7 linked regions of the Homo sapiens genome follow. The protein of the gene in region 5 purifies or fractionates together with the protein of the main gene of each other region. This does not show direct contact. Each region holds a gene or a part of one and is shown on either strand. Other genes may lie near its edges.

The links.
Region 1: the proteins of NOL4 (region 5) and ZSWIM9 purify together in Homo sapiens (affinity purification with mass spectrometry; one large-scale study listed by BioGRID and IntAct). This does not show direct contact.
Region 2: the proteins of NOL4 (region 5) and ZNF195 purify together in Homo sapiens (affinity purification with mass spectrometry; one large-scale study listed by BioGRID and IntAct). This does not show direct contact.
Region 3: the proteins of NOL4 (region 5) and BRIP1 purify together in Homo sapiens (affinity purification with mass spectrometry; one large-scale study listed by BioGRID and IntAct). This does not show direct contact.
Region 4: the proteins of NOL4 (region 5) and SETX purify together in Homo sapiens (affinity purification with mass spectrometry; one large-scale study listed by BioGRID and IntAct). This does not show direct contact.
Region 6: the proteins of NOL4 (region 5) and USP30 purify together in Homo sapiens (affinity purification with mass spectrometry; one large-scale study listed by BioGRID and IntAct). This does not show direct contact.
Region 7: the proteins of NOL4 (region 5) and ZNF550 purify together in Homo sapiens (affinity purification with mass spectrometry; one large-scale study listed by BioGRID and IntAct). This does not show direct contact.

The regions. Positions count from the first base shown.
Region 1 is NC_000019.10:48,194,680-48,198,120, reverse strand, and holds the end of ZSWIM9 (uncharacterized protein ZSWIM9), read right to left. Parts: coding exon 1,294-3,441; 3' UTR 501-1,293; downstream 1-500.
Region 2 is NC_000011.10:3,368,761-3,373,276, forward strand, and holds part of ZNF195 (zinc finger protein 195), read right to left. Parts: intron 2,944-4,516; coding exon 2,817-2,943; intron 2,311-2,816; coding exon 2,215-2,310; intron 1-2,214. UniProt on the Homo sapiens protein: May be involved in transcriptional regulation.
Region 3 is NC_000017.11:61,681,078-61,685,538, reverse strand, and holds part of BRIP1 (Fanconi anemia group J protein), read left to right. Parts: intron 1-1,398; coding exon 1,399-2,243; 3' UTR 2,244-4,461. UniProt on the Homo sapiens protein: DNA-dependent ATPase and 5'-3' DNA helicase required for the maintenance of chromosomal stability. Acts late in the Fanconi anemia pathway, after FANCD2 ubiquitination.
Region 4 is NC_000009.12:132,260,633-132,265,148, forward strand, and holds the end of SETX (probable helicase senataxin), read right to left. Parts: intron 4,354-4,516; coding exon 3,607-4,353; 3' UTR 724-3,606; downstream 1-723. UniProt on the Homo sapiens protein: Probable RNA/DNA helicase involved in diverse aspects of RNA metabolism and genomic integrity.
Region 5 is NC_000018.10:34,214,233-34,218,748, reverse strand, and holds part of NOL4 (nucleolar protein 4), read left to right. Parts: intron 1-4,516.
Region 6 is NC_000012.12:109,069,068-109,073,583, forward strand, and holds part of USP30 (ubiquitin carboxyl-terminal hydrolase 30), read left to right. Parts: intron 1-2,544; coding exon 2,545-2,643; intron 2,644-3,237; coding exon 3,238-3,283; intron 3,284-4,370; coding exon 4,371-4,465; intron 4,466-4,516. UniProt on the Homo sapiens protein: Deubiquitinating enzyme tethered to the mitochondrial outer membrane that acts as a key inhibitor of mitophagy by counteracting the action of parkin (PRKN): hydrolyzes ubiquitin attached by parkin on target proteins, such as RHOT1/MIRO1 and TOMM20, thereby blocking parkin's ability to drive mitophagy.
Region 7 is NC_000019.10:57,552,936-57,557,451, reverse strand, and holds part of ZNF550 (zinc finger protein 550), read left to right. Parts: intron 1-1,094; coding exon 1,095-1,221; intron 1,222-4,516. UniProt on the Homo sapiens protein: May be involved in transcriptional regulation.

The sequences.
Region 1 (3,441 bases), on a different chromosome or scaffold from region 5:
ACAGAGCAAGACTCAAAAAAAAAAAAAAAAAAGCTTCCTAGTTCTGAGCACAGTGGCTCACACCTGTAATCCCAGCACTTTGGGAGGCTGTGGCAGGAGGATTGCTTAAGCCGAGGAGTCCAAGACCAGCCTGAGTAACATAGCAAGACCCTGTTTCTACAAAAATATAAAAATAAAAAAGCCTCCCACCTCAACCTGAGCAGACTCGTTGACCAGGACTGGGTCACAGGCCCATTCTGTGGCCAGGACATTTGGCATGAGTCAGTCATTTGAAGGTAGAATCGACTCATGTCAAGAAGTTGCCACTGGGACGCACTGGTCCAGATGATGGAGGAGGAAGCTTGAGTTGCTATGGAGATGAATTCATTGTGGCTCCTCTATCCATCTGGCCCCAGGAGGCCTTGTCGGTAGAAAGAATGAAGGAACGCTGGACCATCTCAACTGTTCCCTGGATCTGGGACTCCCAACCAACCCCAGAAGCCAAGAACTCATCACGGAAACCAAAATAAGATTGTTTTATTCCAATCCTGAAGAACAATAGTCCAAACAATTCCCCTCCCCTGCTGGAGACTCTCCTGACCCCCAGTGCCCGCCCTCCCTCTCTCTTCAGAAGGCGATGGGGGTCGATGTCTCCAGGTCTTGGAGAAAAACCAAAACCACGCCCCTTGCATTTCGTCTCTACCCGTCTCCCACACATTTCTTTTGTCTCATCTCCGATTTTTCTTCCCCCTCCTACATCCCGTCCCTTCCTCTCCTGCTTCCCCCAGCTTTTCCTCATGTCTTCATTTCTGTCTCTTTGCTTGTCCTCTCTCCTCCATTTCCGGCTCCCCTTTCCATTTTTTCTCGCTTACCTCCTCTCCTTCATCTGTCTTCTGTACTTTCTCCCTTTCCCCTCTCCCCGCTGCACTCCCTAGACTGGCCAGTCTACTCTTGCCAGACACTCCCCATATGATCGCTTCCTCCCCCTCCCCCCAGCTCTGCCCCTTTCCTTCCTTCTGTCCCAGCCTGACCCTGTCTACACCTCTCATCACATGCTTCCTCTCCAGAGGGAAGCCCTCAGAATCCACCCTGCCCATCAACACCTTCCCAAGCTGTGGCTCCAGGACCTCAGAGACCACTTACAGCTTGCCCTTGGACCCAGAGAGGCAAACTGCCATGAGGAGGTCCCTGGATGACCCAGAAGGTGGCCAGGGGGACTGCAACGGTCTCCTTGGCCTCAGCCCTATTATCTTTGGGATCGAAGAATGCCCTCCGACCCTCCTGGTGGAGGGTGGTGGGCAGAGGCATGAAGGGTCAGGGCTCTGGGGCTCTCCCCCAGCAATCCCTGAGCAGGTCCATGTGGAATAAGGCAGCCCCAGTGAGGAGGCGCGCTGCAAAGAGGTGTCTGCAGGGCAGACGGCGGGCGGCGTGAATTGAGCAGCTGCAGCGTGTCAGGGCCCCATCCAGGAAGAAGTCCGAGGTGCCGTCCTTAAGGGCAAAGCCAGCTCCGGTCCAGTGGAAACCCCGGGTCCCATGCTGCCTAGCAAAGGCCAACTCCTCAGCCACCAGGTCTGCCAGCTCTGGCCCGCAGGCTGCTCGGAATTTGGCCAGGGGTTCCCAGTCCACCTCCTCCTCTCCCGGGGGTCGGCAAAGCCTCTTTGGTTCCCTGGGGCCATCTTCGCCTCCTTCCTGCAGGCCGTCACCTGCAGCCAGGTGTTCACTCCTCGCCGCTGCCCATTCTGGGCTGCCTTCCAATACAGTCCCCACCGGGGTGCCAGACACGACTCCATTCCCCAGCCCTAGACACCGCCCTCCTGCGTCTCCCCACTCCATCCCTCGTCCGGCTCGGCTCTTGGGGCCCACGGACCGGGCTCCCCCTCCATCTCCATTCTCCATGCCTGTGACCCTCGTGTCTCCCAGCTGGACCAGAACTATATCCTCCAGGCCCCTTCTTCTTTTGACCCCCACCCTCGCTCCCCTCTCCTCTGCAATCTCTGGCCCTCTCCTCCTCTCATCTTCCCACTGGGGTCCCCTTTGGTCTCCGTTCTCAGGGGCCAACTCCAGGGACTTCTCCAAGGGGATCCCCCTCAAGTTTCTGACCTCCAGCCCCCTCCCCTTCTCTACTTCTGACTGTGGCCCCTTCCATTCTGCAGTTCTCAGTCCCCCTGCCCTTTCATCGTGCAGCTGCGCCCCCCTCCAGGGGCTTCCTTCAAGACTCCTGACCCTCTCATAGTCAAACTGGGTCCCCCTCAGGTCGGTGGTACTCCTGCGATCTTCCAGCTGGGCCACCCTCCAGGTATACCCTTCCAATCCTCTTAGCGCCTGGTCCTCCAACTGGGACCCCCTCCAGACATAACCTTCCAGTCCCCAATCTTTCTCACCCTCCAACTGGGGCCCCCTCCAGTCTCTAATCTCTGGCCCTCTCAGGTGCCCTTTCTCTAACTTCGACCCTCTCAAGACACCCCCTTCCAGTCCCCTCGGCTTCTGATTCTCCAACCGACCCCCTCTCCAATCTCTGATCTGCAGTGCCCTCCCCTTCTCACCTTCGAACTGAGCCCCGCCCCAGTCTCTGGTTTCCAGTGCCCTTGCCCACTCCTTCTCCATCTGGGCTCCCCTCCAAATACTTCCTTCTTTCGGAGCCCCTCCCCAGTCGCCTGTCTCCAGGCCCCTCACCCTCTCGTTCTCCCCCTGGGCTCCCCTCCCTGGCTCATCCTCCAGCCAAGGCCCCCCGCCATCGGGCCCCTCGGGCACCGCCTCCCCGGCCGCGTCGGCCCACTGCATGGCCACCAGGTCGCGAAGGCACTGCGCCACGCCACGCGAGGGGCTGAGACGACGCAGCAGTCGCCGGCGGTGGCCTCGCACCAGGGCACACGCGTCCAGGTCTCTGGCCGCCTCGAAGGCGCGGAAGCGGACCCACATGTCGCGGCGGGGCTCCCAGTTGCGCTCGAAGTAGTCCACGAAGGCGGCTGGGCCGTGGGCGTGGAGCTCGGCCAGCGCCTCGTCGTAGGCTGCGGGCGACGACGCGCCAGCCAGGCGGCACAGGCGCGACCACAGGCCCGGGTCCTCGCGGCCGGCGCCGCCCAGCTCCTGCGCCTTGCTGAAGAGCGTCTCCAGGCCCTGCGCGCGGCAGATCTGCACGCGCGCGCAGGGCAGCAGCTGGCGCACTGCAGGCAACTGCGCCGCCACCTCGGGCCCGGCGGTGAGGCAGCGCACGCGGCCCTTGACGTCTGGCGCGCTCTGCAGCAGCGACGCGAGCGCGAAGCGCAGCAGGCTCGGTGTGCCCGGGCGCGCCACGCAGCAGGCAGCCTGGCGCGCACGGCCCGAGCCGTCCACGCACAGCACGGCCAGCAGATCCAGCGCGCCCTGCAGCCCCGGCAGCCGGTCCACCAGCAGCATGCGAGGGAAGCGCCGCAGCAGCGCCCTGGTGCGCGACGTCAGGAAGAACACCGTCTCCACCACAGC
Region 2 (4,516 bases), on a different chromosome or scaffold from region 5:
CCAGAATTAAACTCATGCATATCCACTTAACTAATCTTTCACAAGTTCACGAAGAAGATACAATACAGACAGTATAGTCTCTTCAACACTTGGTCCTGGAGAAACAGAATACCCGCAATCAAAATAATGAAATAGCCCATTTTTCTTACACCATACTCAAAAATTAACTTGAAATCAAGCCTAAAATGTAAAACATGTATCCTTAAAAACTCTGAGAGAAAACCTCTGATATTGGTCTTGGCAATCATTTTTTAGACACGACACCAAAAGTACAGCAACAAAAGTAAATATAAACAAAATGGAGTACATTAAGCTAAAAAGCTTGTGACACCAAAGACAATTTACAATCAAACTTTTGGATACTAGGATGGCTAATATCAAAAATAAGTAACATATTAGGGCTGTGCAAAAGTAATTGTGGTTTTTGCCTTCTAAATAGTAAGAAATACTCTTACTTTTGCGCCAATCTACTAACAATGTTGATAAGGATGTAAAGAAAAAACAATTCTGAACGCTCAGAGTTCTCAACTGGTAGAGTCATTATGAAAACCAGGGTGGGGGGGCGTTATTTAAAAGTTAGAAAAAGATAAACCTACCCTGCAACGCAGCAATCACACTTCTGTGTATATAATAACTGAAGGGAATAAAAGCAGCATCTTGAAGAATTATCTGCTCCCTCATGTTCACTGCAGCATTATTCACAATTGTCAAGATATAAAGACAAGCTAAACGTTTGCGGATGCTGAATGGATAAAGAAAATGTGATATAAATAGACAATAGAATATTACTCAGCCATAAAAAAGGAATGAAATCCTGTCATTCAACCACGTGGATGACCCTGAAGGACATCCTGCTAAATAAACTCAGCCAGGCCCCAAAGACAGAGACTGCACGTTCCCCCTCAGACGTGGAATCTGTCGTGGCTGAACTCACAGGAGCAGAGGACAATGGCAGTTGCCAGGGCCTGGAGTTGGGGAAAATGAGCTGTTGTTCAAAAGGTACAAACTTTCAGTTGTAAGATGAGTAAGTTTGGGGAATCTAATGAGTAGCTTCACGAATACTATTAATAATCTTTTGTATGCTTAAAGTTTGCCAACGGTAGACATTAACTGTTCTCACTACAAGAAAAGGTAATTACGTGAAGTGATAGATTTGTTCCTTGAAGTGATTGCACTAATTATTTCACAACGTATACACATATCAAATTATTACATTGTACACAATATATACACAATTTTTATTTCTAAAATAATCTGTTACACATATGCCCACATAGACACACTGTATATATGTGTGTGTATATATACATGAATGGATAAAGAAAATATGATTTAAATAGACAACAGAATATTACTCCAGCATAAAAAAGAATGAAATCCTATCATTTCAAAAGGATATGTTGATATATTATATATACACACATATATGATATATACACACACATATATACACACATATATACACACATATATACATATGCACACATACATACATATGAATGACAGAGTCCTGATAAGCCTCATACTAAAAAAGAAGAAATTATAAAATGATAATATTATAACTATTACAGTTGGGAGTTAGGGAATATAAAGTTTAAATGACCAACCTCAGCTCATACTAAAAAAAATAAAATAAAATGTTGAAGTAAAATAACATTAGATTATCTCATATTTGGGCAGATGCCTAGTGTTCGGAGAAAACTGCTGAGTATACATTTCTGTAGACTCCCATTTGAAACCTCTGTAGGATACGAAATCATAAAGCAGAAAGCATACAACATCTGTTTACGGGACTTCTGGGATTTCTGAACCAATCACCATCACCACGCCTCTCGCACACTTCAGACATGATGCAAAGGAAATCAAAAAACATTTAACAGAGTTCCTCAAAAACAGGCAGGTACAGGCATGTTCCCAAAAGCAGTGGCGGAGCACGCCATGAGACCACACAGGCCCTTACTCGTCAGGAGGAGGACTCTGATTTTTACTGTAACCTTTATAAAGGAAGATCACTAAACAGGAAGCAGAGTCTATACAAAATTTGAGAGAATGAGACAGAAGACGCTCCTAGGGTACAGCAAGAGAAAGACACCCAGGCTCTCAGAAACCATCTCCACTAGGGCAGAGCTTCTCAAACCACATTTTAAGGTCTGGCTTCCTCCTCGACCTCTGGACCTCTCACCTGGGTTACCTGCTTCGTTCATTCCCACCCACCTGGATGTCCGTCTGCTGCCTCCTGTCTCTTCACATTCCAGGGCTCTTTTCGTTGCTCCAGGCAGGTGATCAGGCCTGGCTTACAGACAGTGAGACCTGTTTTATTAGAAAAAAGTGACATTACTCTTGCTGAAATTCTCCAATTATCAACCTTGTACTGTGCTTAGTAGAGTGAACATTATATAAGATTCTAGAAAATTAATCCCAAAATTATGCTTCCTGACATCACCTTTAGAATATTCAGTAAGTATTTTAAATCTGTGGGTTCTTAGTTTCACCACTCAGTACTGCTGACATAAAAAATTGGTGGTGGAAATTTGACTTTAAGTTGTGGGCAACAATATTTCATGCCACTGAATTTCTGGAATTGTCACTAGAGTGAAAGATACAGATCAGCTGAAAAAAAAGGAAGGTTTATGTCAAGATGAACCACATTTTGAAGATTTTTTTTTTTTTTACATCAACTATTCCCCATGTTTTTCTTAAAAGCAGGGATCTGAAACTCATTCATGCAACGCAGAAACTCCCAAAAAACATTCCGCAGAGGAACGAAAGGAACTCTTTAGGGCATAGGAGGAACTACGTATTGAAGTTATCCTCACCAACGGAGAACAAGTTTCTGTAGTTCTCCAACATCACATCCCTGTACAAATTCTGCTGAGCGAGGTCCAGGCATTTCCACTCCTCCAGGGAGAATTCTATGGCCACATCCCTGAACGTCAACAGAGTCTGAAGAAGAAACAACAACAATAACAAATACTTGATTCGAGGTGAAATGAGCGAGTGAAGAGAACTGGTTCTGACTTACACAAGTGACTGAAATTATACAATAAGGTAATTCTTAGCAGAAGAATACTCTCTAACTCTGAGGAAAGAGAATTGCCTGAGAGCCACATAAGCAGTGTATATACAATACTTTTCTGGTTGATAACAAGTATAACATTAAGGGCATCAACAAAGGCATGTCCATTTTTGAGTGCTACATTTACGTCACATGAATAAGCTGTGTATATTTCGCAGGCAGAAAAGTCATGGTGAGTTAGAAGCTGCCTCTCCAATTTTCATGTGTCCAATAAACTAGTGTGCAGATTTTGCTTCAGGAAATCGGAGGTCAAGGCTGAGTTTCCGAATTTCTAACGCGCTCACCAGTGATGCCAGTCCTTTGGGCCCAAGGACAATATTTTGTCAAAAATCCTGTAAGTGGCAAGCTTGGGTTTATCCCAGTTTTTCTAAACCATAAAGAGAGATGAGATTCTTCATCTTCTAAAGCAAGGCATATGCAAAAAGAATCTAAGAAGCAAAACCTTTCAGATTAAATGTGATTATTTATGCACATTAATTAGTAAATCTCCTCAAGGTACTTAAAAGAGAAAAAAATAAACTCCACAATGGAAAATCTGTCAGGGAGCTCTTTAAACAACTGAATAAAACTAATATCAACTGTAATAGGACAGATTTTTATCACGTGCCAATGCACAGAGAAGGACATATTACTGGTGTGATATTGGCCAAAAGGTCAATTATAATCTGAATCAAATCATACCGAAACCTTAGTGTTATGCAAAGTTCAAGAGACAAATAAATATCTCCCAGGTTCTGACAAATATCTCCCAGGTTCTGACAAATATTTCCCAGGTCCTGACAAATATCTCCCAGGTTCTGACAAATAAATATCTCCCAGGTTCTGACAAATAAATATCTCCTATGTTCTGACAAATATCTCCCAGGTTCTGACAAATATCTCCCAGGTTCTGTAATCTGTTTTCTTTTGTCTTGAGACTGAGTCTCACTCTGTAGCCCAGGCTGGAGTGCAGTGGCGCGATCTCGGCTCACTGCTACCTCTGCCTCCCTGGTTCAGGCAATTCTCGTCCCTCAGCCTCCGGAGTAGATGGAACTACCCACATGTGCCACCACGCTTGGATAATTTTTGTATTTTTTTAGTAGAGATGGGGTTTCACCATGTTGGTCAGGCTGGTCTCGAACTCCTGGCCCCAAGCGATCTGCCCACCTAGGCCTCCCAAAGTGTTGGGATTATAGGCATGAGCCACCATGCCCAGCAGTAATCTCTAATAGTGTATTAAAAGAGTCTTTCTTTAGCATTCTAAAAAGCAAGTGTCTTTTCATTTTTCTCTTTTCCAGAATGCTTTGAGTTATTCTGAGAGATAAATGTCATCTGGTTTAAATGTTTATTTTCTTAGTCCTGTTCTGCATGCAGCTTATGGAGCATCCAGATGAAACCTAAAGAGTGCACATTTCCCTTCTTTGCTGATATCCAAAAACCCACCCCATCCTCAAGAGGAAT
Region 3 (4,461 bases), on a different chromosome or scaffold from region 5:
TATCCCTTCAGGTTGGGTTGTAAAGGTCAAAATTATAAATATCACAGCATTGTAAAGTACCATGTAAGTGGTAGATGTTATTCTAAAGGCTATATAAAAATTTGGCCTAATTTTTATGTAGATACTTCTATATGAACTACTTTTCCTATATAGATAGTTCTTATGAACTTATTTTTAGGAGGTGAGAGACATTTATTTTAAGTGATGAAAAATAATATTTTAAAATATTTTGAAATAATCATCTGTATCAGATTGGCAAACTGTGGCCCATGGGCCAAATTTGGCCTGCTGCCTGTTTTTGTAAATAAAGTTTAATGAAATGTAGTCATGCCCATTTATTTACATTTTAGAAACAACAGCAGAGTTGAGTATTTGTGTGTATTGCACTAGAACAGCATAATTGAGTAGTCGCAACAGATACATTATGCTCCACAAAGCCTAAATATTACTATCTGGCCTATGACAGAAAAGGTTTGCCAAACTCTGGTCTATTCCATTGGATATAATTTCAGTTGTTTTAATTCATATATCCAAGGCGGGTGGATCATCCGAGGTCAGGAGTCCGAGACCAGCCTGACCAGTGTGGTGAAACACCGTCTCTACTAAAAAAATACAAAAATTAGCTGGGTGTGGAGGCAGCTGTCTGTAATCCCAGCTACTCAGGAGGCTGAGGCAGGAGAATTGCTTGAACTGGGAGGTGGAGGTTGCAGTGAGCCAGGATTGCGCCATTGCACTCCAGCCTGGGCAACAAAAGCAAAACTCGGACTAAAAAAAAGAAAAACATCAATTTTTAAACATGTATTTTGTAGTATATAAGTACTACAAAATAGTAATACAATTTTGTATATAAATACTACAAAATAGTAATACAAAATTCACTATAAATAGTGAATTCAAGCCGATTAACTTGGTAATCAGGAAACCTAGTTTCTAGTCTTGGTCTTCTTACTAACCAGTTTTATAACTTTGAGCAAATAACTTAGCCTTATGTCACTTTCCTTATTTATTAAATAAAAGAATTAGTCTAGGTAAGTTTTTCTCAGTCACTGGTTAGTGGATTTTCAAGGCAAATGTTTACAGCCTGTTCCCTCCTTTCCTCAGCTCCCTTCCTCTTCCCTTTTACCCCTTCTTTCCTCATTCATTCTTGAGCTCCCTGCTGTGGAATTTGATAGTTTACCAGACAGCATTATAACTTGGGCTAGGAAACATTAGAGACCTAAGATTTCTTTCAGAGTTAATATTCTGTTCCAAGATGAAAATCCACTAGTATTCGTTGGGGGCTCTAAGTTATGTATCCTATACAGTTATTTAGGTATTTCTAATAAATAATTATTTTAACCTAGCAATTATGTTAGCTAGGAGCAGAAAGTTAAATCTCTTAAATTCTTGTATTCTTAGATGATCCAGTATTCCTGGAAGAAGCAGGGAAAGCAGAAAAAATTGTGATTTCCAGATCCACAAGCCCAACTTTCAACAAACAAACAAAGAGAGTTAGCTGGTCAAGCTTTAATTCTTTGGGACAGTATTTTACTGGTAAAATACCGAAGGCAACACCTGAGCTCGGGTCATCAGAGAATAGTGCCTCTAGTCCTCCCCGTTTCAAAACAGAGAAGATGGAAAGTAAAACTGTTTTGCCCTTCACTGATAAATGTGAATCCTCAAATCTGACAGTAAACACATCGTTTGGATCATGCCCTCAATCAGAAACCATTATTTCATCATTAAAGATTGATGCCACCCTTACTAGAAAAAATCATTCTGAACATCCGCTCTGTTCTGAAGAAGCCCTGGATCCAGACATTGAATTGTCTCTAGTAAGTGAAGAAGATAAACAGTCCACTTCAAATAGAGATTTTGAAACAGAAGCAGAAGATGAATCTATCTATTTTACACCTGAACTTTATGATCCTGAAGATACAGATGAAGAAAAAAATGACCTAGCTGAAACTGATAGAGGAAATAGATTGGCTAACAATTCAGATTGCATTTTAGCTAAAGACCTTTTTGAAATTAGAACTATAAAAGAAGTAGATTCAGCCAGAGAAGTGAAAGCTGAGGATTGCATAGATACAAAGTTGAATGGAATTCTGCATATTGAAGAAAGTAAAATTGATGACATTGATGGTAATGTAAAAACAACTTGGATAAATGAACTGGAACTGGGAAAAACTCATGAAATAGAAATAAAGAACTTTAAACCATCTCCTTCCAAAAATAAAGGCATGTTTCCTGGTTTTAAGTAATAATACTTAACTCTCAAGCTAAGTAAAAATATGTCATCATGCTTATGTTAAACTCTGTTGTAAGTAATAATTTGTAAATTGAATAAGTGGCATACTTTTTAAAAAACTATTTTATGTTCAGAAATGTAAATGTTATTATTCTTGAGTTTTTGGGTTTTTTTTTTTGAGACAGAGTCTTGGTCTGTTGCCCAGGCTGGAATGCAGTGGTGTGCTCTGGGCTCACTGCAACCTTCACCTCCAGGTTCAAGTGATTCTCCTGCCTCAGCCTTCTGAGTAGCTGGGACTACAGGTGTGCACCACCATGCCCAGCTAGTTTTTGTATTTTTAGTAGAGATGGGGTTTCACCATGTTGGCCAGGCTGGTCTCGAACTCCTGGCCTCGTGATCTGCCCTTCTCTGCCTCCCTAAGTTGCTGGGATTACAGGTGTGAGCCACAGTGCCTGGCCCATTCTTGAGTTTTGATAAAGTAATTCATACAAAGTACTGTCCTCAAATAAGTCTTCCTTAGCTAAATGCAATTTAAAATTATTCAAAGATCCTAGGGCACTTCTAGTTTCACGTAAATATTCATATTAGGTGGTTCTCTTCATCCATTTGTTTTCACACTGATACATAAAAATTAACAGCAGTCTAATCTAGTGACACCTCAGTCATATTTCGCTATAGATTTTACCTCAAATCAGTCCAAGACTTTTTCAGAGATCACCATTTGTCTTGAAAGGTTTATTTCGTTATTAAACTGCCTACTTATAAGTAATTAAGAGAAATTAAGAAAGTAGTATGCATTTTTAATTGAAATTGTTTTACATTCTTTGTATAATAAACCTAAAACCAAACATGTCATAAACAAATTGACGTAAAGATATAAAATGCCAAATGAAGTATTCCAAATTTTCTATTCTAATTATTTAGCTTCACCATCATTGTGGAAAAAAATACTAGATCCTGCTTAGTATTATATATTTTTCCTAGTGGATCAGTGAGTAATAAGTACCAAACACTAGACTAGAAGGTAATTTCTACATTGTTTAGAAAGGGTGAAACAATTTATCCCCTCTGGTATTGTTCTAGCATAAGCTTTAGTTATACAATGATTAAGATAGAAAACTTCATATATAAATTTGATAAGCAAACCCACATTTATAGCTGCAGCTAAAATATGTTTCCTTAGGGCACAGTAATCCTTTCTGTGAATTTTGACCTTGTTTGTGTTTTTGTGAATGAAGCTATATGTCTAATCAAAAATGATTATAAAAGAGGCTCATCTCTGACATCATTCCAAAAATACATTCATTGATCTCTTTTTAAGAAACATCTGTTATTCACTGGGCATTGGGACTTTTTGTGAGTAATTTGAATTGAAATTTTATGAGCTATCCAAGAATTCTGTATGGTCTATTATTTTCAAGTCAAAATTTCCAGTAAGGATTTACTTTACATTTCATTTGGATAAATGAATCATTATATAGGTATGTCTTTGCTTCCATTTTGAGACATTTAGATTTTTACAGCCTGTTTCTATAGCATTTGATGTTACAACTCTAAGCGTAGTTCAAAGACATTTAAATTGACAAGTTACCAGTTAAAGAATTTAGAATATATTAGATCCCATCTAGTATTATATATTTTTTCTAGTTGATCATTGAGCAGTAAATACCAAATACTCGATTAGAAGGTAATTTTTACATTGTTTTGAAAGGGTGAAACAATTTATCTCCTCTGGTATTATTCTTAAACCACAGATAGGGATAGTAGGGTAGTGAAACGAATAAATACCTGGTAGAAGACAAGAGACTTGGGCTCTACACCTGGCTCTGCCACTGATTTGCTAAGTCATATTGGCAATCACCACACCCTTCAGGGAATTAGTTTCATCTGTAAAATGCAGCGGTTAGTACTATAAAATCATACAAATTTCTTTGTGCTTTGAGAATCTATAAAGGAATGTCTGTTGATATTCTGAGTCGATTTTCATTTGCTTTTGTTCCAGAACGGTTAAAATAAAGCATATTATTTCATTTAAAAAGTAAAGTGGCTCTTACTCATTTACATTTAGGGAACGATGGTGACGTGGTTTGGCTATGTCCCCAGCCAGATCTCATCTTGAATTGTAGTTCCCATAATCCCGACGTGTTGTGGGAAGGACCCAGTGGGAGGTAATTGAATCGTGGGGGCGGTTACCCTCATGCGGTTCTCGTGATACTGAGTTCTTATGAGAC
Region 4 (4,516 bases), on a different chromosome or scaffold from region 5:
AACTGCCTTTGTGGTGCTGTACAACATTATCAATTCTATTTGAGCTGAGGCTAAATTTTAGTTTCGTCCCTCAATTATTTATTCCTCAATGAATGGTGAAACCCAGGAGGTGGGGGCGATTGTGGGGGCGGATGGGTCAGGAAAGAGATGTCTGGTGACTTCAAAAACCATCACTAAGGCTGCTGCATAACCAATTCCACAAATGACCACCATGCAGCACTCATCTCTCGCCAGGCCATTGGGCAAATTTATTACTCCCCCTAAGTCCCAAACACACCATTTTACCCTCCCTGGTAATTTGTGTATGCATACTGAACAAGCCAAGCAGGCCAAGTGGGCTGTGTGCACACACTTCTGGGTACAGAAGGAGACACAGAGGCGGAGGTCAAGTGCCTTTTAACAGGCACAAGTGTGGGGAAGCTGACTACATTTCCTGAAGTTTATTGTTTTATAAAGTGTGTTCCACTTCCATAACCATCAGCAATTACCCCTGGCAAGGGCAATTCTACCCTGTCCCTCCACCAGTGCTTCTGGCAGCTCCTTTCACGGGTCACTGTTCATCTGTTCCTCCTATCTCACCTCCACCCCAATTCCAGCCTAATGATCAGCACATATTTCTGTTGGACCAAACTTCAGTCTGTAACTAAACAGCACAGCTGGCCTCAATGCACCTCATTACTGTACAGAGAAGATTCCAAAAGGAGCTAGGAAGGAGGGCCGGGCTGGATAATGAAACTTTTTATATCTGAATTGCACAAATCCCCACCAAGTAATTTCAGCATAAAGCAAACCAAATGGCAGACGAAATGATGTTAGTACCTTGTAGTTTACTTCATAATACATAACCTCTAATCCATGTCCATCTTCTTGTTTCTGCTTTTAATTCTGCCATTTCCTCTTAAAATTTAGGGTTTAACAAAGACAACAGGGCTGTTTGCCAAATCGCAGCTATTAATTCACAGCATAGAAAAGTCAAAGCTATAGCAAAAAATTGCTAATCTGCACAACTTTAAAAAATAGTTCAGTACATTTTTGTTATAAAATTCATTTACAGGAGGTTATTCACATGTACTTGTCAAATTTACTCCTGATAATTCACAAAAACATACAACTCAACAAACTGTGCACAATAAATCCAAGGCAAATTATATACAAAGAAACAAAACAAGCTTTTAAGTAGCACATATTCATTTGAAATAACTAATATTGAAAGAAGACAGGGAACTTTCTTTTAATGCCATGGCAAAGACGAAGCGAAGAGCCACACTTCACACCTTGTAAAAAGAATAGCCCTGTTCAACAACGCTGCGCTGACAGCCACATCAGGAGGGGCCACGGTGAACATAGGAAATGGCTTTGGCAAATACTTGTACCAACTGGAACGAGTGAAGTTTCAAAAGTAATGTGAGGTACAACTGCATTCCGCTGTGAAAGGCCGTCACAGGACACAGGCTCGTCTGTTAGAAAGGATGATCTAGTTCTACCATTAATTCTTGCAGAATCAGATCTGCTGAGTGGTGAACCAACAGGTGAACACAACGTAAGAACAGGCATCAAACTTCACTGGAAATAATATTGTTCAGTGTGTGGCGGCAAAATATGCATTTTAGAGAAAACTTATTTCTCAAATCATGTGTTAATAGTATTAACATGAGCAGCGTGAGAGACATCCTGACCCCAACGTTTTTGCCATGCCTCCCTTTAGAAGCTTAGGAGTTTGTACATTCCCTAAGTGGTCAGCACTACAAGTGTCTGCTAAAATGGGCACTTCATCAAGATAACAGGAAAGCAAACTTAAAGTAACGAGATTTCTTCCCAAAGGCACATGGAAGAAGCTGATAGAGCCCTTGACCCAGACAGAATGGGACCCATCCCTACCCGTCCTGAACTGTCGCACACTGCATGGCCAAAGACAAACTCTCCACCCCCACAGAGGAAGCAGTGGCTGACTCTGGGGACAAAGCACTCCAGGAAGTCACCTGCTCCCTGGGTTTCAGGAGTATTCAGTTGACCGTCTGGACACCAGTGAGGGAGACACAGGTAATGAAATCAAATGCTCAAACTTTTGGCAACCGAAAGTTGTTTTTTAAAGCTCTTTATAATCTGCTCAAGTAGAATTTCTAACACAAAACCCTTTTTTGCTTAAAAAGCAGATGACAAAGGAAATGTCAAATAATGCACATGAATCTTCAGCTATTTTCCTACCCCCAAATGAGATATGGGGCTGCACAGCATTCACTACAGATCCCTAGTTTTTACAACTGTCAACTGTACATTCTCATGTTTAGGATACTCCAGTTCACTGCGTGGATATTTGGAAAACTGGACAAAATCAGGCAGCCCACCCCTCCCTTGTCCCGAGCTTCCTCGATCTCCATTCACCATGACCAATTTTTTCCCCCACAAAAGCACTATCACCTCTAATAGTAGCTGGAAACACCTATCAGATATTCTAAACAGCATGTATTTTTACCAGGTAGATGATTTCTGAAGATCACAGGAAGTCTACCACTCTCTTCCCAGTTCTGAACTCCTCTGGTTACGCTTCATTTTAAATCGGGTGCTTCTTTCCCGCCCAAAATATTCTATTTGGCCTGCCCCAGTGGTTCCCAAGCTGCCTGGTGATCAGAATCCCTTGGGAAATGTTGAACACACAGCTTCCCAGGCTTTCTGGAAAACTAGTTAGATCTGTCTGACAATCTGTAAGCTGAGGCGATTCTTCCACAGCTGACCCAGCGCTAATCTAGCATTTGGCAACCAAATGTCTGTACCTCACCAGTCACACAAGGCTCACAATATGCTGGGAGCATTTGAATGATAGCTCAAGAATTATTCTTTCACTCCATATTCTTCTCTCTCAAGAAGATTAGGAATTTTAGCTAGGGAACTATGTGCATACTGAAACAGGTAAATGAACTCATCACAGAAATATAATACCCTGGGCCAATGCACTCTATCTAAAAATGCACCATGTCAGCAAGACTTTACCTAACATAACCGTGCTGCCCAAAGTGTCCCCTAGGAGACTCCAGGTTTTTGGGGGGGTTTTTGCTTTTTTTAATAGAGCCAGAGACACCTGACCCACCAGCACTAACTCAGCTTATTCCAAGCTAGGCTGTTAAATAATTATCTGTCTTGCTCTAACAATGGTTGAAAGGACCCGCCCTCCTCCCATCTTTTTTTTTTTGGTAATATAAAGTTTGTTCTGTTGAAAACTGATTAACATTTTAAACAGGGGGAAAGAAAAGCGGTCTACTAGATTAAATTTTAAAAGGATTTTGTTATTTGCTATACAAATATACATTTCAACTTTTACAACATTCACTCCAGTCTGACCTCCTTGTCTATAGAAGACTAAGAGATCAACATTTCCAGTCTCTGACTTCAAGGACATTATTACGGATACACAATGCCCTCTGAAAGCTTTTGCAAATGACAGAAAATACTGAAGATGACCAGAGGCTCAGGTGTTAAGGATGCATTTTCCATGTTTTCCAACAGCACACAAACTCCTTACAAAAAACAAGCTTATCTAGATGGTCCCACGAGCTGGTCATCTTCAGTTTACAATATGCTGTGGCTGCTGGCCCATGTCACTGGGCTTTCCTATAAAAGCTTTCTTTTCTTGGAACTGCTGTCCTCCTGCTCCAGTGTCCTCTTGTCCCACCTAGAGTTCCTCCTGGTGTGATGGGTCTCGGAACCACACTTCTCCTGCTCCCCTTCACTGAAAGCCCTGGCCTCTCTCCTGTGACAGAGCTCCTCTTCCGGGTCATCACATTTGCTCTGACACGTGGAAGCCTCGGGACTGGCAGCTGGAGGTTCGCCCCGCACGGGAGGTTTGTGGCTGCTCAGAGCAGCCACTACAGCAGCGGGCTGCTGTATATGGCTCAGGTCCTGGTGAACGACAGGGAAGCCCGGCTCGCCCGTAGGAGGTGTTGCTCCAGGATGCTGGGGGCTCGAGGGTTGTGGATCCCAAAGGAATATTCCTCCTTTGACCTCAATGCCCATCCTCTTCAGCAGTCGTGGGTCCTGAAGTTGGTCATGAACAGGAGGTCTTTCAGGGTCCTTTGAAGTAACAGTAAGAGTAATTTCCTTGGAGTCAGAGGGTGTGTGGTATAGAGAAGCAGCAACAGATGTCTTGGCAAATCCACTGTCTAGCTTGCTGCTGGGCAAACCACCCTGGGGTCTGGACCCCTCTGGGGCTATGGTAGGAGGGTGAGTGAGACTTCTCTGCAGCACAGGCTTGAGTTTCAGAATCTTCACTGCATCATGTCTATAGTTTTTGTCACAGGTCTTAATAATGGCACCACGCTTCTGAGCATCCTGAATCAGCTGATTCCAATGCTGGTTTTCCTTGAAACAATGAGAAGGGAGAAATAATTACACCCCAAAGAGACACTGCTTGGGAAGCATAGAGTTCCAGCTTTCATTTCTGAACAAATAATACATATTATTGTATGAACATATTCTCAAGATTCATTACTCGTCAGACAAGGATGAAAGGAAAAAATAAATT
Region 5 (4,516 bases):
CTTCTATAGTGGACATTGCTGTTGATAGCCCATGCATTTTTCTTTTCATTAAAGTACTTTGGGAGATCCTGTAGCATAGGATTTGGGGGTCAAATAGATCCCGAGAATGAATATCAGCAATGTGGCTTATTAGCTGACTTAGTGATTCTTTGTGGAGTTGTGAAGAATAAATCATCTATGACAAGTCCCCAGCATAGGTCAGCTCGCAGGGAACAGTGGGGACCAGTAGTAAAGGCCATTCTGGCTTGAGTATTAAGGGGCAGGAGATTTCCTCTGAATATAAAGAGGAAATATGACCCTGTTCGTGTATGAAGACTATCCCACACTTATTTCTTGAGATACCAGTTTTTTATTTTTCCGTTGGTTCTTCCTTGTCCTATTAGTAGCCACAATAGGGAGATGGGGCAAGATTTGGCACTCGTATATATTTCTTCTGTAATCTTCCTTAGTTTGCTGGGATCCTGCTCCCTACGGGTTTACTCTCTAGACTCACTGCATAAGACGGAGGAATGATGAAGTAGAAAATACAGGCATATGGCAGGAGAACTTTCAAGGACTTTAATTTTGTGTCAAGTCTATAAAGACCTTTTCCTAATAGCTGTTGTGTTTGCTAAGACTTTCACTCTTTGTTTTTTGTTTTTTTTTTTTTGGTCTAACTGGGAAAGATGAATGTGAATCTACTATGTTTTAGGTTATATTCATTTTTACAATCTTTATATAACAAGATAAAACAAACTTCATGGATAGCATAGATGGCAAGAAACATGGCATAGTGAGTAGAGTGTTGATTTTACAGCACAATTTAAATCCTGGCTCTGACGTTTACTGGAGTTCTGGGTCGGCTAAAGTTTAACTAAAGATGCAGTTTCCTCTTGTAAAATGTTAGTATTAATACTAGTCTTACTAGTTTTGCATAGTTAGTAGTGTATATAATATATACTAACATATACTATATATGCATATGCACACATATATACACATACATATACACACACATACACACAAGCATGTGGTATATGTAGCATATGCCGGGGACATAGTAAATGCTAAAAAAAAAAGTTGCTTAAAATATGATTCATAGAACATGAAAATCACGATGTAATTATAATTAGGTATATTTTATGAACTCAAAATCACATTGCAACACGGAGCTAAAATACAAGGTCAAGCGCGGTGGCTCATGCCTGTAATCCTAGCATTCTGGGAGGCTGAGGCAGGCGGATTGCCTGAGCTCAGGAGTTTGAGACCAGCCTGGGCAACACAGTGAAACCCCATCTCTACTAAAATACAAAAAAAATTAGCTGGGTGTGGCCATGTGCCCTTGTAGTCCCAGCTACTCGGGAGGCTGAGGCAGGAGAATTGCTTGAACCCGGGAGGCGGAGGTTGCAGTGAGCCGAGATCGCACCATTGCACTCCAGCCTGGGCAACAGAGTGAGACTCCATCTCAAAAAAAATAAATAAATAAAAAAAAAGAAAGAAATACAAGGTATACTTGTATGTATTTATGTACATATGTATTATTAAGATTTATTCTACCTACTCCATTTTTGGAAGAAAAAATGACTGTTATTGTAAAAGTGATACTGTCTCAGTTTTTTAAAAAAGTTAAATGAAAAGGAAAGAAATAAAGAAAAAGTCATACCAAATGTCCCATCAAAATATAATCACCGTAAGCTAATTATGAACATCATTCTAGATTCCTCTCTAGAAATATATGCCAAAAGAAGAGTCGATAAAATGACTGATAGTTGCATATGGACAGGCAGAAATAATTTTCTAAAACTAGGATGATGATGATATGCTAATTTAAGTAAGAATAAGAAAATATAAGATTGTCAATGCGACAAAAGAAGAAATACATAAAATTTAATGAATTGCTAATAGATAAATGTTTCTTCTCAAAGATATTTATTCCTGAAGTTAATGGAAAAGATTAAGAAAAACTTTAAGATGTTGAATTACACTTATTTTACCAATTACAAATTTCCGTTTTATAAGTATTATTGACTTTCTCTAATGATAAATGAGAAGCATATTTTCACTTCTTCCCACCTCCTTGTTTCTTAGATCCTGGTTTACATTTCATTTCACTTATTATATTATACTTATTATATATTATAATTTATTATATTCATTATATTATAATTATGTTTGTGTTGTCAGGGTTGTTGATATTAATGTTAAATTATGTAATTTCATTTTAAACATTATTTTCCTATTTAAATGTTTATTATCTGTTTTGTTATCTGGTTTCCTTTACCTCTGAATTCCTTGATTTGATTGACTCTAATTACAGTTTATCATTTTTTTCCTAAAGTAGGTCCATGCACTCTATTCTTTGAATTTTATATACAATTGAGAGTATTTGTCTTTTACCTTTATCCTTGAAGGACAACTAACCAGATGCAGATTCTGTATTTTACTTTTTCTCTCAGAACATTATAGATATTGTGTGTGCTCTGTAAAATTCTAAGGCAAATTGATTTTCCCAAATTTCATGAATTGTTTACTTCTTTATCCTTGAAATTAAATTATTTTGCTAAGATATATTTGAATTTCTTGTCTAACTCTATATTTTGTCCTGCGTAACTGTGCCCCTGTTTATGACTTCAGTTAGGCCTGTGTTCTGGTGACATAATGTATATCTTCTGAAGTCTAAATCTGTACAGTTGATCCTTGAACAACACAGGTCAGGATTGCCTGGGTCCACTTGTATGTGGATTTTTTTCAATAAGTATTTGGAAAATTTTTGGAAATATATAACAATTTGAAAAAACTCTCAGATAAACTGCATAATCTAGAAATATAAAAAATCTAAGAAAAATATATGCCATGAATGCTTAAAATCTATGCAGGCACTAGTCTATTTATGGCTTAATAGACTATCTTTTTGCTAAGGCTTGCAGTCAACAGTAGACTATTAGTAGTTAAGTTTTGGGGGAGCAAAATTATATGCAGGTTTTCAGGGGCAGAGGGTGTCAGTACACCTAACCCCAGGTTGTTCAAGGGTCAGCTGTATTTTCGATTTTCTATTGGGTGTTTTCACCAAGATATCCCAAAATATCTCAAATTAAGTATGTCTAGAAACACATTTTTCTTCCTTCCATTTTCCCATCCGAGGTCCTCCGAGCTGACACATCTTTTTCTTATTCCCTCTCTCCATGGATAGCAGCACAACTTTACTTACCTGTACAAGGTGAAATTTGTATGGCAGCCTTGATTTCTCCCTCTTATAGTCAATGTTCAACTGTTGGTTGATTCTACTAAACTAATATTTCTTGAAGCCATCAGATTCTCACCATATAATAAAATATGCCTATTGCTTAATAATTTGTTAAATTTCCACAAAACTATTTTGAAGAAAGATTTAATCTCCAGTACCTGGCATAATGGGTGATGCATTTTGATGTTCAGTATTAATGGAATAAATAAAAATCACTTCCCAATCTGACATGACATAATGGGACATTATACAACAGCTTCTTATTTACCACCACACAAGAGCTTTTTAGTTTTATCTACATCTATATCTATCTGTCCAACTGTCCATCCATCCAACTATGTGTTTTAATTGTGATAAAAAAAACACACAACATAAAAGTTACCATATTAATCATTTTACATTGTAGACTTAAGTAGTGTTAAGTATATTCACATTGTCTTGCAACAGATCTCCAGAGCTTTTTCATCTTGCATAACAGAAACTATATTATACAACAGTTCCCCTTTTTCCTTTCTCTCCATCACTTGGTGAAGTGCCATTTTAGTTTCTGATTATATGAATTGAACTACTTTAGATGCCTCATATAAGTGGAATCATACAGAATTTGTCTTTTTATAACTGACTCATTTTACTAGCATAATGTCTTTAAGATTCATCCATGTTATAATTATATGTGACAAGATTTTCCTCCTTTTAAAGGCTGAATAATATTCCATTGTAGGTATATGCCATTTTGTTTGTCCATTCATTAGTTGATGGCCATTTGGATTGCTTGTACTTCTTTTATTGTGAGTAGTGCTGCAATGAACACGAGTGGGCAGATATCTCCTCAAAACCCTACTTTCAATTTTTCTGGATATGTACACAGAAGCAGGTTTGCTGGATCATATGGTAGTTCTAATTTTTTGAGGATCTCCCTACTAATAATAATAATTTGAAACAAAAAGTCCCTTTAATCTTCACAATAGTCCTATGGTATTAACACTTTTTATTATACTTATGTGAAGATTATGGTTTACATTAAGGTGAATTTCTAAAAATCACACAGCTTGGGACAAGAAACCATTTGGATTCTAAGGCCCTTGCTTTAAATCACTGGTTTCCAAATTCTAATGATAACGTAACTCATTTGCTAAAAAAGATTCCCCCAGTATATACACTTTTATAAACTACATCTATATAACACTCTACCAATACTTAACCCATTATAAACTATATTTAAAAGTACAAATATATTGGGCTGAGATTAAAATATATATAAATCCAAGTTTTAACATTTCCTTCTTCACCTCA
Region 6 (4,516 bases), on a different chromosome or scaffold from region 5:
AAAAACACTGAGGCTCAGAGAAGTGGAATGATTTGCCCAGAATCATGCAGCTATTTAAGGGGCAGAGCCAGGATTTAAGACAGTCTAGTGCTACAGTGCACATTCAAGCTCCCCCTCCTCTGCAGTGCTGTCCCTTTCCTTAAGGCCTAGTTGTTACATGGCTGACCCACGGTTTAGGTTATAGATCCACCTCCATCCTTTCTCGGATCTGCTTCAAGCCTGGGCCCAGATGCCTGGTGTGTGAGGGCTCCTTGAGCCTCCCAGGAAGTGCTGATTCTCCTCCAGGTTCCCTGCTTCCTGTTCATCTGTACAGGGCTGCACCTCTGGTGTGCCGTTGGCTAATAGCTAGGCTGCCACACCTCCCCTGGATTGTGAGTCCCTCAGGGGCTAGAGCCTTGCCTTATTTATCTTTGAATCTCTACTTCCACTCTACAGCTGCAGTTTTATAGCCCAGGAGGGAATTCATTTATATAGGCAACAAGTATTTATTGAATGCCTGCCTGGGGTGGGGACTGTCGAGGGCAATGGAGTCGTAGCAGCAGACATGACTTGCAGGAGTTTCCTGCTCTCTTAGAGCTGGTATTCCAGTGGGGGATGAGGATAGCAGGCAGGGGTCGGTGCAGACAGTAAGCAGGGGATTTCAGGATATGCTAACAAGAAACTAGCTGGTGTAACATGGCATGGATAGGGAGGGCAGAGGAGGAGGAGCCAAGCTACAGGGGGAGACTGCTCCAGGTAGGGAGGCTCCTCTCAGGAGGTGAGGTTTCAGCGGAGACCGGAAGTATAAAAGAGAGTGAAGTGTGTGGACACCTGGGTACAGAGCATTCCAGACAGATGAAGAAGCTAGGGTATAAGTCTGGAGATGGTTATAAAGCTGCCACCTGTGGAGAATGGCAGGGAGGCCAGGGCGGGGAGGGCGGTGGAGGAGAGGGGCTGGCGAAGTTGGCAGGGAGCAGATTGTGCAGGGACTAGGAGGCTGCGGGCGGCATCAGCTTCTATTGTGTTTGCAGCGGGGAGCCACTAGAGGACTTTGAACTGGGGACTGGTTTGATCTGACTTGTTAGAAAAGGAAGGCTGGAGGGGCAAGAATGCAAGCCGAGAGGAAAGGTGGGAGGCCGCTGCAGTTATCTGGCCGAGATGGTGTGGCTCAGACTGGGGTCGAAGCAGGGTAGCTGAGAGTCCTCAGGAATTTAGGGCGTATTTTGGAGGAGGGTCCTTTTTTCAGGACTGCTGCTGAATTGGCTGAGGGTGGGTTAGAGTTCAGAGGGGTGGAGGCAGCTTTGGATAATTGGTTGGGGAGTATGCCCTGTGGAGGAGCTCTTTTGGCAGAGACCTGAAGGATAGGAGGTAGCCGTGCGAAGGTCTGAGCACAGCCCGAAATGGGAATAAGCTGGATATGTTCAAGGAACAGCAAAGAGGCCAGGGGCCGGGACATTGTGAATGTTGGGGGCTTTGTAGGCCAGATAAGAATGGTAGGTTTTACTCTAGTAGTGGAAGCCATTGGAAAGCTAAAAGCAGAAGAGTAAAGCTATCTGCCTTTTAAAGTATTGCTCTGGTGGCAGTGTGAGGGGACACCAAAGGAGAAGCAGAGGGCCTGTGTTGTGACCCCGTTACTCCCGGAAGAGTGAGGGGTGGCTTGGGTTTTTGGGGAGAGAGCCATTTGAGTTGATCCTTCAAGAGTAGTCCCATGCCATTGGATCCAGCAACCCCGCTGCTGGGTACAAACCAAAAGAATTCAAAGCAGGGACTCAGTAGGGTATTTGTATACTCAGGTTAATAGCAGCATGTTCGCAATAGCCAAGGGGTAGAAGCAACCCAAGTGTTCATCGGCTGATAAATAGGTAAACAAAACTTTCATACAATGGAATATTATTCAGCCTTAAAAAGGAAGGAAATTCTGCAGTATGCTACAACATAGGTGAAGCTTGAAGACGTTATGCCGAGGAAAATAAGCCAGTCACAAAGACCAACACTGTATGATTCCACTTGTGTGAGGTTCCCAGAGTAATCAGATTCCTAGAGAGATAAAGAATGGTGGGTGCCAGGGGTTGGGGAAGGGGAAATGGGAAATCAGTGTTTAACAGATATGGAGTTTCAGCTGGGGAAGATGAGAAAGTTCTGAAGATGGATGGCAGTGATGATTGTACAACAACATGAATGTACTTAATGCCACAGAATCATTCATGTTAAGATGATAAATGTTATGATATGTGTATTTTACCACAATTAACAAAAAACATAATCTTTTGAAATCGGAGTGGAGGTCAAGGCTGTCTCAGTGAAACAGAATGGTCTCATAGACTGCTGGCGTGAAGGCAGCCACCTGGCTTTCTCTCCTGCTCTCTGCTCCTGGACCTCTTGCTTGAGGGTCTTCACTCGTGACAGTGTCCAGGACATAACTGTTTTCTTTAATGAGCTGGGCCTTGAGAAGGTAGAAAGCAAATTCTACCCACATTCACTGTAGGGTGTCTGCCCGAGGTGGGTAGTTCTGATCTTGCTCTTGCCTCTTCCAACCTCTCTAAAGAATGCTTTGCCCTATGACAGGATGCTCACGAATTATTCCATGTCATTACCTCGTCATTGGAAGATGAGCGAGACCGCCAGCCTCGGGTCACACATTTGTTTGATGTGCATTCCCTGGAGGTAAACCATTAATATTTCCAACACGTTCTGTGCAGCTTGTGCATATTTAATAAGTATAGGGGAGGCAAGTGTAATCTTTGTACAACTTTAAAAGTAAGATTCAGTAAAAATCAGTGGTGGGAATGAGGCCAGGGGAGGGTCTTAAAACTACATGCTTTGCAGTTGGTGATCTGATTAGGGATGTCAAGGCTCTTTCAAATGATTCATTGCTGCAATTTGTGTTGGCTTTGAGAATAAAGAATGTGTTATTTTTTCCTGTTTAATACAGGGGAACAGGGGCCATAGGAATGCTAAGTGAGCCCTCATTTCCCTGTAACAGTATAAATATCGGAGGAGTTGACAAAAGTTAACCAGTAAGGATGAAAATATTCTGGAGAGAAGAAATATGTTTCTATTGCATTTGATGAAAGAATATTCATAGTATCCAGCCAGATAGGCTAATTGAGGCTACCTTTAGAAACCTGAGCTTTGTTAAAAGTTGATTTTTAGTGGTGTAATCAACGTAGAAACTTGTAAGGTTTAGGGGTGGGGTGAGGGTGGTGAAAGGGATTATAGTAAGGTTTTCAGTCTGTTTTTTTTTTTTCTCCCCTACAGCAGCAGTCAGAAATAACTCCCAAACAAATTACCTGCCGCACAAGAGGTAGCTGTTTTCCATTGAAATATAACACATAAGATGTGGACTTTTAAGATATGATAATAATTTGCTTGTTTTAAAAAGATTTTTTTCTGGTGACATACAGGCCAGCTTGAAGTGTGATGTGCTTGCAAAGGAACTTGTATTTTGGAAATAGCTTTAAATAGATTCTCTTGGTGTTCCCTTGCACCCCAGCCCAGCTGACTTTTCTTGAAACTGGCTTATTTGTACTTCAAACAAGGGCTTTCTTTTTACCTTTTTGAATTGATCCTGGGAAGAACATAATGAGCTGAATCTGTCGTGTCCTCAGCATTTCCAGTGCTGCCAAATTCTATTGCATATTACCACAGTCATCCTTAGGAGGAAATTGTTGTTTTCTTAAGACTTAAAAAATAAGATTAGCATATTAATTCCTCTGTGTAGTAATAGGAACAAATATTTTTTGAGCCCATGCTGTTTGCCAGGCATTGCATTATCTCATTTAAGCCTCATAACAACTCTACAAAGTTGATGATACTGGAGTTAATGGGATAATAACTATCCCAATTTTCCGCACACTGAGGCTTGTAGAGATTAAAGGCATTCCCAGGTCAGGTAGTGAATAAGAAGCACAGCCAGAGCTGATCCCTGGGCTGCACAACTCCAGAGCCCAGGTTTCTCACTTATGTTCTTTCCATTAAACCCCATTCTAGCCAAAGAAAGGCCTAGTTATTCAGAACTTGCTTATTCTGTTTATTTCAGAAGATTTTATCTCGCTTTATGGAATGTTCACTTGTGGTATCCTTCTTTTGACATCTCAAACATTTTAAGCATATGTTTGTAAAAAGACATTATTCAACACAAATTCCTTTTTAAAATGTGGCTCTACCCATTATACAGAAACCGTATATAAAGATAGATCTGTGTAAATTCTCCTATGAAGGAATGGGATGTCTTTTGGATGGAAGTCAATGAGGAAAGCTATTTCAATGTACTTTTCAAGAATATTTTTTCTTAAGAGGTAGTTTCTACCACATGCTAGAAAGGAAGATGAATGTTGAGCTTGGTGCCAAAGGGCTAAAAGTGACATATCAAAAAACTTTTTGCATTCCAGGGTCACCTCACCCTACATCCAATCACTGGAAGTCTCAACATCCTTTTCATGGAAGACTCACTAGTAATATGGTCTGCAAACACTGTGAACACCAGGTAAATACAATACCAACACTTGATATTTCCGGGAGAGGTTTTCCAAAAGTT
Region 7 (4,516 bases), on a different chromosome or scaffold from region 5:
TCAGCAGGAAAACATGTGAGCAAAGGACTCTGTGTCATAAATAAGTTTAAGGAAAGGTGCTGTGCCTCGATGTGCACGTAGGCCAGATTTATGTTTGACTTTACCCAAACATCTCAGTGCAGTAAAGAGCAGTATTGCCGCCAGCATGTCTTACCTCCAGCCATAAGGCGGCTTTCTCCTATCTCAGTAAATAGAATGTACGCTCGGGTTTTACACCAAGACATTCCATTCCCAGGGACAAGCAGGAGACAGATGCCTTCCTCTTATCTCAACTGCAAAGAGGCCTTCCTCTTTCATGAATCCTCGTCAGCACAGACCCTTTATGGGTGTCGGGCTGAGGGAAGGTAAGGTCTTTCCCTTCCCACGAGGCCACATCTCAGGCTGTCTCAGTGGGGGGAAACCTTGGACAATACCCAGGCTTTCTCGGGCAGAGGTCCCTGTGGCCTTCCGCAGTGCATTGTGTCCCTGGGTACCCGAGACGGGAGAATGGCGATGACTTTTACCAAGCATACTGCCTGCAAACACATGTTTACCAAGGCACATCCTGCACAGCCCTAACTCCATTAAACCTTGAGTCAATACAGCACATGTTTCTGTGAGCACAGGGTTGGGGCTAGGGTTACAGATTAACAGCATCTCAAGGCAGAAGAATTTTTCTTAGTACAGATCAAAATGGAGTTTCTTATGTCTTCCTTTTTCTACATAGACACAGTAACGGTCTGATCTATTTTTCTTTCCCCCACACTTAGCTGCTGCTGTTGCTGTTATTGTGGTTGGATTAGTATCAGTCATTTTCCTCCATTCTTTTAATATGCCAGAGTACTTACTCTCTGCTTCCCATAGTCCTCGTGGGATTGCCATTGTTTGTGTCATCTTCAACAGCTTCCCCATAGAAGGCTTTTCTCTCAGGCACAATTGCATTGTCAAAAGGCAGTATCTGCCTCCCCTTTGAGCCCTGCACGGAAGTCAGCCCAAAGGAGACCTAGTTGATTCAGACCTGGATCTCTCTGCACATTGACTAGAGACTGAGTGACAGGTTCTGATCCTATGCGACAACACAAGGCCAATAGCATTACTTCTGTTTGACTTTCCAGATGTTGGTGACCTTCAAGGATGTGGCTGTGACCTTTACCCGGGAGGAGTGGAGACAGCTGGACCTGGCCCAGAGGACCCTGTACCGAGAGGTGATGCTGGAGACCTGTGGGCTTCTGGTTTCACTAGGTAATGACTCACCTCTCATCCCTGAGGAGGACCCTAACCCTGATTCTTGGCCAGGCAAAAAGGTCACTGGAACTGCCCACCTTTCTCTTGACAGACCTTTCTGTTCCCACCTCTTCCTGACTGGTCTCCCTTTGTCTGCATCAGAGATTGTCGGGGTAGAAAATGTCCTTTTAACACAAACCCTCACTCCAGTGCTCAGCCCATTCTGAGGTCCTTAATCAAGATTGCATAAGAAGGAAGCTGATTGGCCATCCTGGTGGGGTCAGCTGTGGCCACAGCCCTATTAAGCAGGGGCCATGGGTGATGGGCTGTTCTTAGAGAAAGGGGTGAGTCAGGCAGCCCCCCAGAAGACATTTGTCCTCAGTGCCCCTCGGATATCTTCCTAAGCAATACAATCTCTGTAAAAAGGCATCTGGGTGCCTGCATGGTCATTAGTTGTTTTCTGATGCTTGATATCCATGCTCTGTTGATCCAGGAGGTGTTTTTAGAGGGTACACAGGAATGTCCTCAAATGGCATGGTTTGATACCCTGATAAAGCCATTCCTTTTACTTTCTCTGTCCAGCACGCTAATTCTTGTCATAAAAGTCTCATCAGCTGGGTGTGGTGGCTCACGCCTGTAATCCCAGCACTTTGGGAGGCCGAGGCGGGTGGATCACGAGGTCAGGAGTTCAATACCAACCTGGCCAAGATGGTGAAACCCCGTCTGTACTAAAAATACAAAAATTAGCTGGGCGCAGTGGTGCGCGCCTGTAATCCCAGCTACTCAGGAGTTTGAAGCAGGAGAATCGCTTGAACCTGGGAGGCGGAGGTTGCAGTGAGCCAACATTGCGCCAGTGCATTCTAGCCTGGGTGACTGAGCAAGACTCCGGCTCAAAAAAAAAGAAAAGTCTCAGATCAGCGCTGAGTCTTTCATTTTCCTTTCACTCCCCCAGTGCAGTTCATTTCTTTTTTTTAACAGAGGGGACAACCTCCAACTTAGCCCTAAGAAACATACAAGGGTTTCCTGGGACTTAGTGGCATTGTTTTGATTTTGTTGTGTTGTGATTGCAGACTTCTATTTGTAGGAAGGGAAATTGACTTTCTCACTTACCAGAGCAAAACAAGGTTCCCTTTTAGAATACAATATTTAACAAAAGTGGGTCAGGATAAAGAAGTTATTAGAATTGATGGCACACTCTGAGTTCAGTTGGGAAGGTGGACATCAATCCATAGATGACAACTGAAATAAGTTCTAGAAAGAAAAATGAGGGGAATTTAGGAATAAATAAGCAGGATGTCATAACCTATTGTGGGAGTTCCAAAGAGGGCATCTCAGGAAGTGACAGTGGAGCTGAGACCTGAAAGCTGAGTAGGAGTTAGCTGGATAGAAGGAGGTGGAAGAGGGTAACAGTGTTCCAGGTGGAGGAACCAGCGTGTGAAAAGTGACAGGGAGCTCAGCTCTTGGGAGAGCCAAAGGATCATCTGATTCACCTTTCCCACAGCCCTGTCCCAGAACTCAAAGCCAGGCATGTAGCACACATTGGTGGACCTTACTGTGACATGTCTGAAGGAATCCTGGGCTATGGTTCAGAATCTGCCAGTCGATGTTTCTGTGGATCCTTGTACCTCAGTCATTGGTCTTCTATACAGAATCCTCCTGTCTTTTACTCACCACATCTAGTGGAAAGCATTTGGCTGCATATAACAGAAAACCAGATCAAACTGGCTTCACCTGGAAGGAAATTCACTAACTCGCCTGATGAGAAGCCTGAGGTGTGGTTGGCTCCAGGCTTGTTCGGTGCCGCAGCCCAGTGACGCCATCAAGGATGTCTTGGTTCTCTGTTCCTTCTTCTTGGTTCAGGCTTCTGATTGTCCTCAGGCTGGCTCCTCATAGGGATGCTGGGTGCTGCAGCCTTGACTGGGGCAGCAGGCCCCCATGTTCAATCCATCCTCCCACCTTGGAATAAATGCTTTCTTTTCACAATGAGAATCCAGCTTTGGTCACCTGCCTAATGAAGACTCTTGCATTACCAATTTATTTCAACCACTGGTTTTTCTTTTCCTTTTTTTTTGAGATGGAGTCTTGCTCTGTCATTCAGGCTGAAGTGCAGTGCCATGATCTCAGCTCACTGCAGCCTCTGCTTCCTAGGCTCAAGCAATCCTCCCAACCTCATCCCCTTGAGTAGCTAGGACCATAGGTGCACACCACCATACCTGGCTAATTTTTTATATTTTTGGTAGAGACGGGGTTTCACCATGTTGGCCAGGCTGGTTTAGAACTCCTGGCCTCAAGTGATCCTCCTGCCTCGGCCTCCTATAGTGCTGGGATTACAGCATGAGCCACCATGTCCAGCCTCAGCCAGTGGTTTGCAGCCCCATCTGGGCACCAGAATTTTGGGGGGCACATTTTGGAAGTACTGATGCCCAGGTCTCACACGAAGAAATTTTGTTTCATTTGGTTTGAGGTTGGAATCACGCATCCCCAAGTGGTTCTGAAAGCACGAGGTGTTTGAGAAGCAATGATTTAGATTTGTTAGAAAATGCCTCCTGGGGCCGGGTGCAGTAGCACCTTGGGAGACTGAGGCAGGAGGATCACTTGAGGCCAGGCACTCGAGACCAGCCTGACCAATATTGTGAATCCCAGTCTCTATTAAAAATACAAAAACTAGCCAGGCATGGTTTTGCATGCCTGTAATCCCTGCTACTCGGGTGGCTGAGGCACGAGAATCCCTTGAACCTGGGAGGCAGAGGTTGCAGTGAGCCGAGCACTGCACTCCAGCCTGGGCAACAGAGTGAGACTCTGTTTCAAAAAAAGAAAGAAAGAAAGAAAGAAAATGCCTTCTGGAGGAAGCAGCACACCTTTGCCGTGTCCCATGGCTGTCAAAGTGTTGTGTGCCTGAACAACGTTGGCTTCCATAGACGGAGGTCATGGGCAGTGGGTGTTGTGTAGACAGATAGCACTACCCTCCATGGCAGTTGTAGCCCAACAGTGGGATTTGTGCCTGTCTTTTATCTCCTTGGCTGCCATAATAAAATGTCATGGATTGGGTGGTTTAAACAACGAGAGTTTATTTTCTTATGCTTCTGGAGGCTGAGAAGTCCAAGATCAAGGTGTCGGCAAATTTGATTCCTATTGAGACCTCTCTTCCTGGCTTGCAGATGGCTGACTTGCTGTGTTCTTACAAGGTGGAGGGACAGAGGAGAGATCTCTCTCTGTTTTTATGAGGCCATAATTTTATCAGATTAAGGCTCCACCCTTGTGGCCTCATTTAATTTTAATTACCTTCTAAAGATCCTGTCTCCATATACAGTCA